Homo sapiens: one gene and its partner. The protein of the gene in region 1 interacts with the protein of each later gene in a pairwise test. Each region holds a gene or a part of one and is shown in the gene's direction. Other genes may lie near its edges.

Evidence for each region. The genes of interacting proteins can lie anywhere in the genome.
Region 2: the proteins of TBX21 (region 1) and ZNF490 interact in a two-hybrid assay, tested with the Homo sapiens proteins (one large-scale study listed by BioGRID and IntAct).

What each region holds. Positions count from the first base shown.
Region 1 is NC_000017.11:47,743,161-47,747,008, forward strand, and holds the end of TBX21 (T-box transcription factor TBX21), read left to right. Parts: coding exon 1-32; intron 33-1,034; coding exon 1,035-1,193; intron 1,194-1,321; coding exon 1,322-1,383; intron 1,384-1,587; coding exon 1,588-2,206; 3' UTR 2,207-2,962; downstream 2,963-3,848. UniProt on the Homo sapiens protein: Lineage-defining transcription factor which initiates Th1 lineage development from naive Th precursor cells both by activating Th1 genetic programs and by repressing the opposing Th2 and Th17 genetic programs.
Region 2 is NC_000019.10:12,600,615-12,604,575, reverse strand, and holds part of ZNF490 (zinc finger protein 490), read left to right. Parts: intron 1-3,961. UniProt on the Homo sapiens protein: May be involved in transcriptional regulation.

The sequences.
Region 1 (3,848 bases):
ACAACAAGGGGGCGTCCAACAATGTGACCCAGGTAGGACCTGCTCTTCAAAAGGTAGCCTCGCCCTGCTCCCCACCCTGGGTCTGAGACCTCCAAGGCCACAAGGGTCCTGCGGGGCCAGTTTGGTTCATTTTTTCTTCCTTCCTACAGGAAGGAAGGTTCGTTTTTCTTCTGTCCTAAACGAAGGGTCATTTTTCCTCCTTCCTAAACTCTGGCTGTTTCTCACCCACCTTGGGAGGAAGATGAGATGGGATGAAGCTGAATCTTGGACGGGGGTCATATTCAGGCCACACAGGCCAACCCAGCCTCAGGGTTTCTTCACCAAATCATGGGTTGCCATTGCTCCGGCACCATGAAAGGCACAGAGTTGGCCCTGTGGTCCCAGGGAATAGATGCCGAGTTTCTCTAGGTTGAACAATCCTGTTAAAAGTGCCCTTGCTGGCTGGGTGTGGTGGCTCACACCCATAATCCCAGCACTTTGGGAGGCCAAGGCGGGTGGATCACAAGGTCAGGAGTTCAAGACCAGCCTGGCCAAGATGATGAAACCCCGTCTCTACTAAAAATACAAAAATTAGCCAAGCATGGTGGCGGGTGCCTGTAATCCCAGCTACTCAAGAGGCGGAGGCAGGAGAATCGCTTGAACCCGGGAGGCAGAGGTTACAGTGAGCTGAGATCATGCCATTGCACTCCAGCCTGGGTGACAGAGTGAGACTCCGTCTCAAAAAAAAAAAAAAAAGAAAAAAGAAAAAAGAAAAAAAAGTGCCCTTGCCCTAAAGCCCTGTTTGTGCTGATACCTTGGTCTCAATTGACATCTGGAGGTAGAAGAGGGGGCAAGAGGCTAGAATTGGTGCCCCAAAGAGTCCGGACACTGGAGTTGGAAAGCTTGGGGGAAGTTACATGGTGGCAGAGCAGGGGAATGGACAGGATGACCTCAAGGTGCTTGCTAGCCTCACGTGGGGCCAGCTGTTGGTGGGGGTGATGGGATCCTCGAAATCCTTCCTCCCCACCCCTACAACCGTCTTGCTCTGTCTACAGATGATTGTGCTCCAGTCCCTCCATAAGTACCAGCCCCGGCTGCATATCGTTGAGGTGAACGACGGAGAGCCAGAGGCAGCCTGCAACGCTTCCAACACGCATATCTTTACTTTCCAAGAAACCCAGTTCATTGCCGTGACTGCCTACCAGAATGCCGAGGTGAGGGCTGCCTGAGCCCCGGTGGGGAGGAGGGCAGAGTGGGGCCCACTGTCTTCCTTGGGAGGGATTTGGAAAGTTCCCGAGCCCCAGACTCAGGACTCAGGTGACTCTATTTCCCTTCTCTCTAGATTACTCAGCTGAAAATTGATAATAACCCCTTTGCCAAAGGATTCCGGGAGAACTTTGAGTCGTAAGTGCCACTGGGTTCAACTCAGCTTTGGTCCCTCCTGAGACACATCCTCTCCCTGCCCCTGAAAACAGGAGGGTGGGGGACAGATGCTACAGGTGGGCAGGCCAGGGAAGGAGGGTCGGAGAAGGAATGTGTGAAACAGGTAGGCTCACAGGTGACTGGTTCTGCTTGTGACCCGTTTTCTTGCCTTCTATTTTTTTCTAGCATGTACACATCTGTTGACACCAGCATCCCCTCCCCGCCTGGACCCAACTGTCAATTCCTTGGGGGAGATCACTACTCTCCTCTCCTACCCAACCAGTATCCTGTTCCCAGCCGCTTCTACCCCGACCTTCCTGGCCAGGCGAAGGATGTGGTTCCCCAGGCTTACTGGCTGGGGGCCCCCCGGGACCACAGCTATGAGGCTGAGTTTCGAGCAGTCAGCATGAAGCCTGCATTCTTGCCCTCTGCCCCTGGGCCCACCATGTCCTACTACCGAGGCCAGGAGGTCCTGGCACCTGGAGCTGGCTGGCCTGTGGCACCCCAGTACCCTCCCAAGATGGGCCCGGCCAGCTGGTTCCGCCCTATGCGGACTCTGCCCATGGAACCCGGCCCTGGAGGCTCAGAGGGACGGGGACCAGAGGACCAGGGTCCCCCCTTGGTGTGGACTGAGATTGCCCCCATCCGGCCGGAATCCAGTGATTCAGGACTGGGCGAAGGAGACTCTAAGAGGAGGCGCGTGTCCCCCTATCCTTCCAGTGGTGACAGCTCCTCCCCTGCTGGGGCCCCTTCTCCTTTTGATAAGGAAGCTGAAGGACAGTTTTATAACTATTTTCCCAACTGAGCAGATGACATGATGAAAGGAACAGAAACAGTGTTATTAGGTTGGAGGACACCGACTAATTTGGGAAACGGATGAAGGACTGAGAAGGCCCCCGCTCCCTCTGGCCCTTCTCTGTTTAGTAGTTGGTTGGGGAAGTGGGGCTCAAGAAGGATTTTGGGGTTCACCAGATGCTTCCTGGCCCACGATGAAACCTGAGAGGGGTGTCCCCTTGCCCCATCCTCTGCCCTAACTACAGTCGTTTACCTGGTGCTGCGTCTTGCTTTTGGTTTCCAGCTGGAGAAAAGAAGACAAGAAAGTCTTGGGCATGAAGGAGCTTTTTGCATCTAGTGGGTGGGAGGGGTCAGGTGTGGGACATGGGAGCAGGAGACTCCACTTTCTTCCTTTGTACAGTAACTTTCAACCTTTTCGTTGGCATGTGTGTTAATCCCTGATCCAAAAAGAACAAATACACGTATGTTATAACCATCAGCCCGCCAGGGTCAGGGAAAGGACTCACCTGACTTTGGACAGCTGGCCTGGGCTCCCCCTGCTCAAACACAGTGGGGATCAGAGAAAAGGGGCTGGAAAGGGGGGAATGGCCCACATCTCAAGAAGCAAGATATTGTTTGTGGTGGTTGTGTGTGGGTGTGTGTTTTTTCTTTTTCTTTCTTTTTATTTTTTTTGAATGGGGGAGGCTATTTATTGTACTGAGAGTGGTGTCTGGATATATTCCTTTTGTCTTCATCACTTTCTGAAAATAAACATAAAACTGTTGAATGTGCCTGCCTCAGTGCCAGCATGGGGGGACATGGATGGGGACTCAGTTGGGGTTGTACCCAAGCTGGTGTACCCAAGGTGTTCTGTCAGCTTTCATTTATGGGGAACCTGCTAAGACCCTGAAATGACTCCAGCTGAGTTACAGCAAGGCCACATGTCCTACCTTCAGCACTCAGGGGGTTGGTTGATGCTACCTCTTAAGGCATCTTGGGACGGACAGAGAAGAATCCCTTGCCCTGTGTGCACCCTGACATTGAAAGGAGGGGTGTGAGGGCAAGGCCAAGGGCTGGACTGGGAGCGGGGGTGCAGGGCGCTGTGAGGCGGTGGCACTTGATTTTTCTTTGCATTTCTAGCAGCCCTCCACCTTTATCTCTAGGGTTATTCAAGGATTAAAGAAATAAATATAAAATGAGCCATGTGAAATTACCATTTTTGTAGGTCGAAAAGCCAAATATTAGCAATTTTATGTGACTCAAGCTAATACATGTAAAGGGTTTAAGAACATTGCCTGACAAACAGTAAGCACTCACTGTGTAAGCTACTGTTACCAACAGTTTCTAGCTGTTTCTGTCTGTCTTTTTATACACACTGAATTGTGTTTGTAAAATAATACATACTTTTTTTTTTTTTTTTTGAGACAGAGTTTTGCTCTTGTTGCCCAGGCTGGAATGCAATGGTGCGATCTCAGCTCACTGAAACCTTCGCCTCCCAGGTTCAAGTGATTCTCCTGCCTCACCCTCCTGAGTAGCTGGGATTACAGATGTGCACCACCATGCCTGGCTAATTTTTGTATTTTTAGTAGAGACGGTGTTTCGCCATATTGGCCAGGCTGGTCTCGAACTCCTGACGTCAGGTGATCTACCCACCTTGGCTTCCCAAAGTGCTG
Region 2 (3,961 bases), on another chromosome or scaffold:
ATTCTCCTACCTCAGTCTCTCAAGTAGCTGGATTACAGGCCCATGCCACCATGCCCAGCTAATTTTTTTTCTGTGTGTCTATGTTTTTAGTAGAGGCAGGGTTTCACCATGCTGGCCAGGCTGGTCTCGAACTCCTGACCTCATGATCCGCCCACCTTGTCCTCCCAAAGTGCTGGGATTATAGGTGTGAGCCACTGCACCTGGCCTAATTTTTGTATTTTAAGTAGAGATGGGGTTTCATCATGTTGGTCAAGCTGGTCTTGAACTCCTGACCTCAAGTGATCCACCTGCCTCAGCCTCCCAAAGTGCTGGGATTACAGGCGTGAGCCACCACACCTGGCCCTACAAAGGATATTTTAAATGATACGAATGAACAGCCAGATGAAGAGATACCTCCAGGCATATGGTTATGTTCTTATTTACCAACCAGAAGGCTCTCTGAGCCGTGTTTTTGGGTTTTTATGGTGGCTTTATTATGGTGACATGATTAATCACATCATTCACTATGGGTGATCAACTCAACCTTCAGTTTTCTCTTCCCTCCCTGGAGGTGGGGACAGAGCTGAAAGTTTCAAAGCTCCAGTCACATGGTTGGTTCCCTGGCAACTAGCCTCACATCCTGTGGTTTGTAGGAGCTTTCCAAAAATCACCCCATTAACATAAACTTAGCTGTGGTGGAAAGGGGATGGTTATGAATAACTAAAGACATTTCTTCCACCTGTCACTCTGGAACTCTTCTAGAGCTATTTTAAGAACTGAATACAAAAGGCCATTTTTTTTTTTTTTTGAGATAGGGTCTCCTTCACTCTGTCACCCAGTGACAGTGGCACAATCTTGGCTCAATGCAGCCTCCACCCCCGGGTTCAAGCAATGATCCCACCACAGCCTCCTGAGTAGCTGGGACTACAGGTGCACGCCACCACATCTGGCTATTTTTTTCTATTTTTAGTAGAGATGGGTTTTCGCCATGTTGCCCAGACTGGTCTCAAACACCTGAGCTCAAGCATCCACCTACCTTGGCCTCCCAAAGTACTGGGATTACAGATGTGAGCCCCAGCGCCCAGCCTTTTTTTTGTTGTTTGTTTTTTGAGACAGAGTCTTACTCTGTCACCTAGGCTGGAGTGCAGTGGTGTCATCACAGCTCACTGCAGCCTTGACTTCCCTGAGCTCAGGTGACCCTCCCACCTCAACCTCTCAAGTAGCTGAGACTATAGGCACACACCCCTATGCCTGGCCAATTTTTGTATTTTTTGTAGAGATAGGATCTCACTGTGTTGCCCAGGCTGGTCTTGAACTCCTGGGCTCAAGCATCCTGCCTGCCTCAGCCTCCCAACATGGTGGGATTACAGGCAGCCCAAATATTTTAACAAAAGATACTCCAATTGCTCTAGTCGCTTAGGAAATTACAAGGTTTTTAGCAACTGTGAGCCAGGAACCCTGGACAAAACCCAAATTATATATTTCACAATATCACAACTTTCTTTTCCACCAAACTGGGGGGTGGTACTCAAAATGATACCCTCTCTCTGCAGTTTGATTCAATTATAACTTGGATATTCTCTAAGAATCCATAGTTCTTGTCTGTGTGTCAACTGGGAAATCACTGTGGATTTGAATAAGTACTCTGCACATAAGAAAAACCCATGATGGGGCCAGGTGTGGTGGCTCACACCTGTAATCCCAGCACTCTGGGAGGCTGAGGCAGGTGGATTGCATGAGCCCAGGAGTTTGAGACCAGCCTGGCCAACATGGCGAAACCTTGTTTCTACTAAAAATACAAAAAACTAGCCCGGCGTGGTGGTGCGCACCTGTAGGCCCAGCTTCTCGGGAGGCTGAGGTGAGAGAATCATCTGAGCCTGGGAGGTCAAGGCTGCAGTAAGCCGAGATCACACCACTGTACTCTAGCCTGCATAACCATAGTGAAACCTTGTCTCGACAAAAAAAAAAAAAAAGAAATATACATGATGGGCTGCACTGTGTAGATGACCATTACCCTCTAGGAAGACCTCAGTGGTTTTCTTTTTTTGAGACAGAGTCTTGCTCTATTGCCCAGGTTGGAGTCCAGTGGCATCATCTCGGCTCGCTGCAACCTTTGTCTCCTGGGTTTAAGTGATTCTCCTGCCTCAGCTTCCTACATAGTTGGGACTACAGGTGCCTGCCACCATGCCCAACTAATTATTTTTATTTTTTTGGTAGAGATGGGGTTTCACCCTGTTGGCCAGGCTGGTCTCAAGTTCCTGACCTCAGGTAATCCTCCTGCCTCGGCCTCCCGCAGTGCTGGGATTACAGGCGGGAGCTACCGCGCCAGCCAAAGGTTTTCTGATATACAATTTAATTTATGTCACCCAGTCTCCAGTAGCAGCAAAATTTTCATATCAAATACATGAGGCAATTCAGACATAGAGATCAATGGCATGAAATTGAAATTCCAGAAATAGGCCCATATATGTGTGTGTGTGTGTGTGTGTGTGTGTGTGTGTGTGTGTGTGTGTGTGTATATAGTGAACTGAGTTTCAAAAACGGTGCCAGGAATCGGGAAATAATATTATTTTCTTTTTTTACTTTTTTCTTTTTTTTTTGTTGAGTCAGAGTCTTGCTCTCTCGCCCAGGCTGGAGTGCAGTGGTGCGATCTCGGCTCACTGCAAGCTCCGCCTCCCGGGTTCACGCCATTCTCCTGCCTCAGCCTCCTGAGTAGCTGGGACTACAGGAGCCTGCCACCAAGCCCGGCTAATTTTTTTTGTATTTTTAGTAGAGACAGGGTTTCACCATGTTAGCCAGGATGGTCTCGATCTCCTGACCTCGTGATCCGCCCGCCTTGGCCTCCCAAAGTGCTGGGATTACAGGCCTATGCCACCGCACCTGGCCTAGAATATTATTTTCATAAATTGGTGTTGTGACAGTTGGATAGACATACAAAAAATAATAAAATTGGGCCGAGCACAGTGGCATGATCATCTGAGTCCTGGAGTTCAAGACCAGCCTGGGCAATATAGTGCAACCTCATATCTTATAAAAAAAAATTAGCCAGGTTTGTGGCATACACCTGTAGTCCCAGCTGCTTGATGGCTGAGGGAGGAGGATTGCTGGAGCCTGGGAGTTTTGGCTGCAGTGAGCTATGATTGTACCACTCTAGTCTAGCCTGGGTGACAGAGTGAGACCCCAATTCTTTGTTTTTGTTTTTTTTTTTTCAGACGGAGTCTTGCTCTGTCACCCAGGCTAGAGTGCAATGGCGCAATATCGGCTCATTGCAACCTTCGCCTCCCGGGTTCACACCATTCTCCTGCCTCAGCCTCCCGAGTAGCTGGGACTACAGGTGCCCGCCACCACGCCTGGCTAATTTTTTGTATTTTTAGTAGAGACGGAGTTTCACCGTGTTAGCCAGGATGGTCTCGATCTCCTGACCTCGTGATCTACCCGCCTTGGCCTCCGAAAGTGCTGGGATTACAGGCGTAAGCCAACGCACCTGGCCTTTTTTTTTTCTTTTTTTTTTGAGACAGGGTCTTACCCTGTCTCCCTGACTGGAAAGCTGTGAGCCTCAGCTCACTGCAGTCTCTGCCTTCCAGGCTCAAAGGATCCTCCCACCTCAGCCTCCCAAGTAGCTGGGGCTACAGGCGTGCACCACCACACCTGGCTAATTTTTGTATTTTTTGGAGAGACAGGTTGTGTCATGTTGGCCAGGCTGGTCTGGAACTCCTGGGCTTAAGTGATCCACCCACCTTGGCTTCCCAAAGTGCTAGGACAAGAGTCCTGAACATTTTTTCTCTATTCTGATGTCACAATCTCCAAAGTTATCTAAAACTTGCATTCAAGAGCACCTGTTAGAGCTTTATAGCTGATTATAAAACCACCTTCTAAAGAGGACCAAGACAAGACAACAATTATTTATGGATGACAAAGTTTTAGGGTAGCCATAGCTAAAGACACAATTGACAAGGAAATCTGTTACTCTGTGGCACACAAT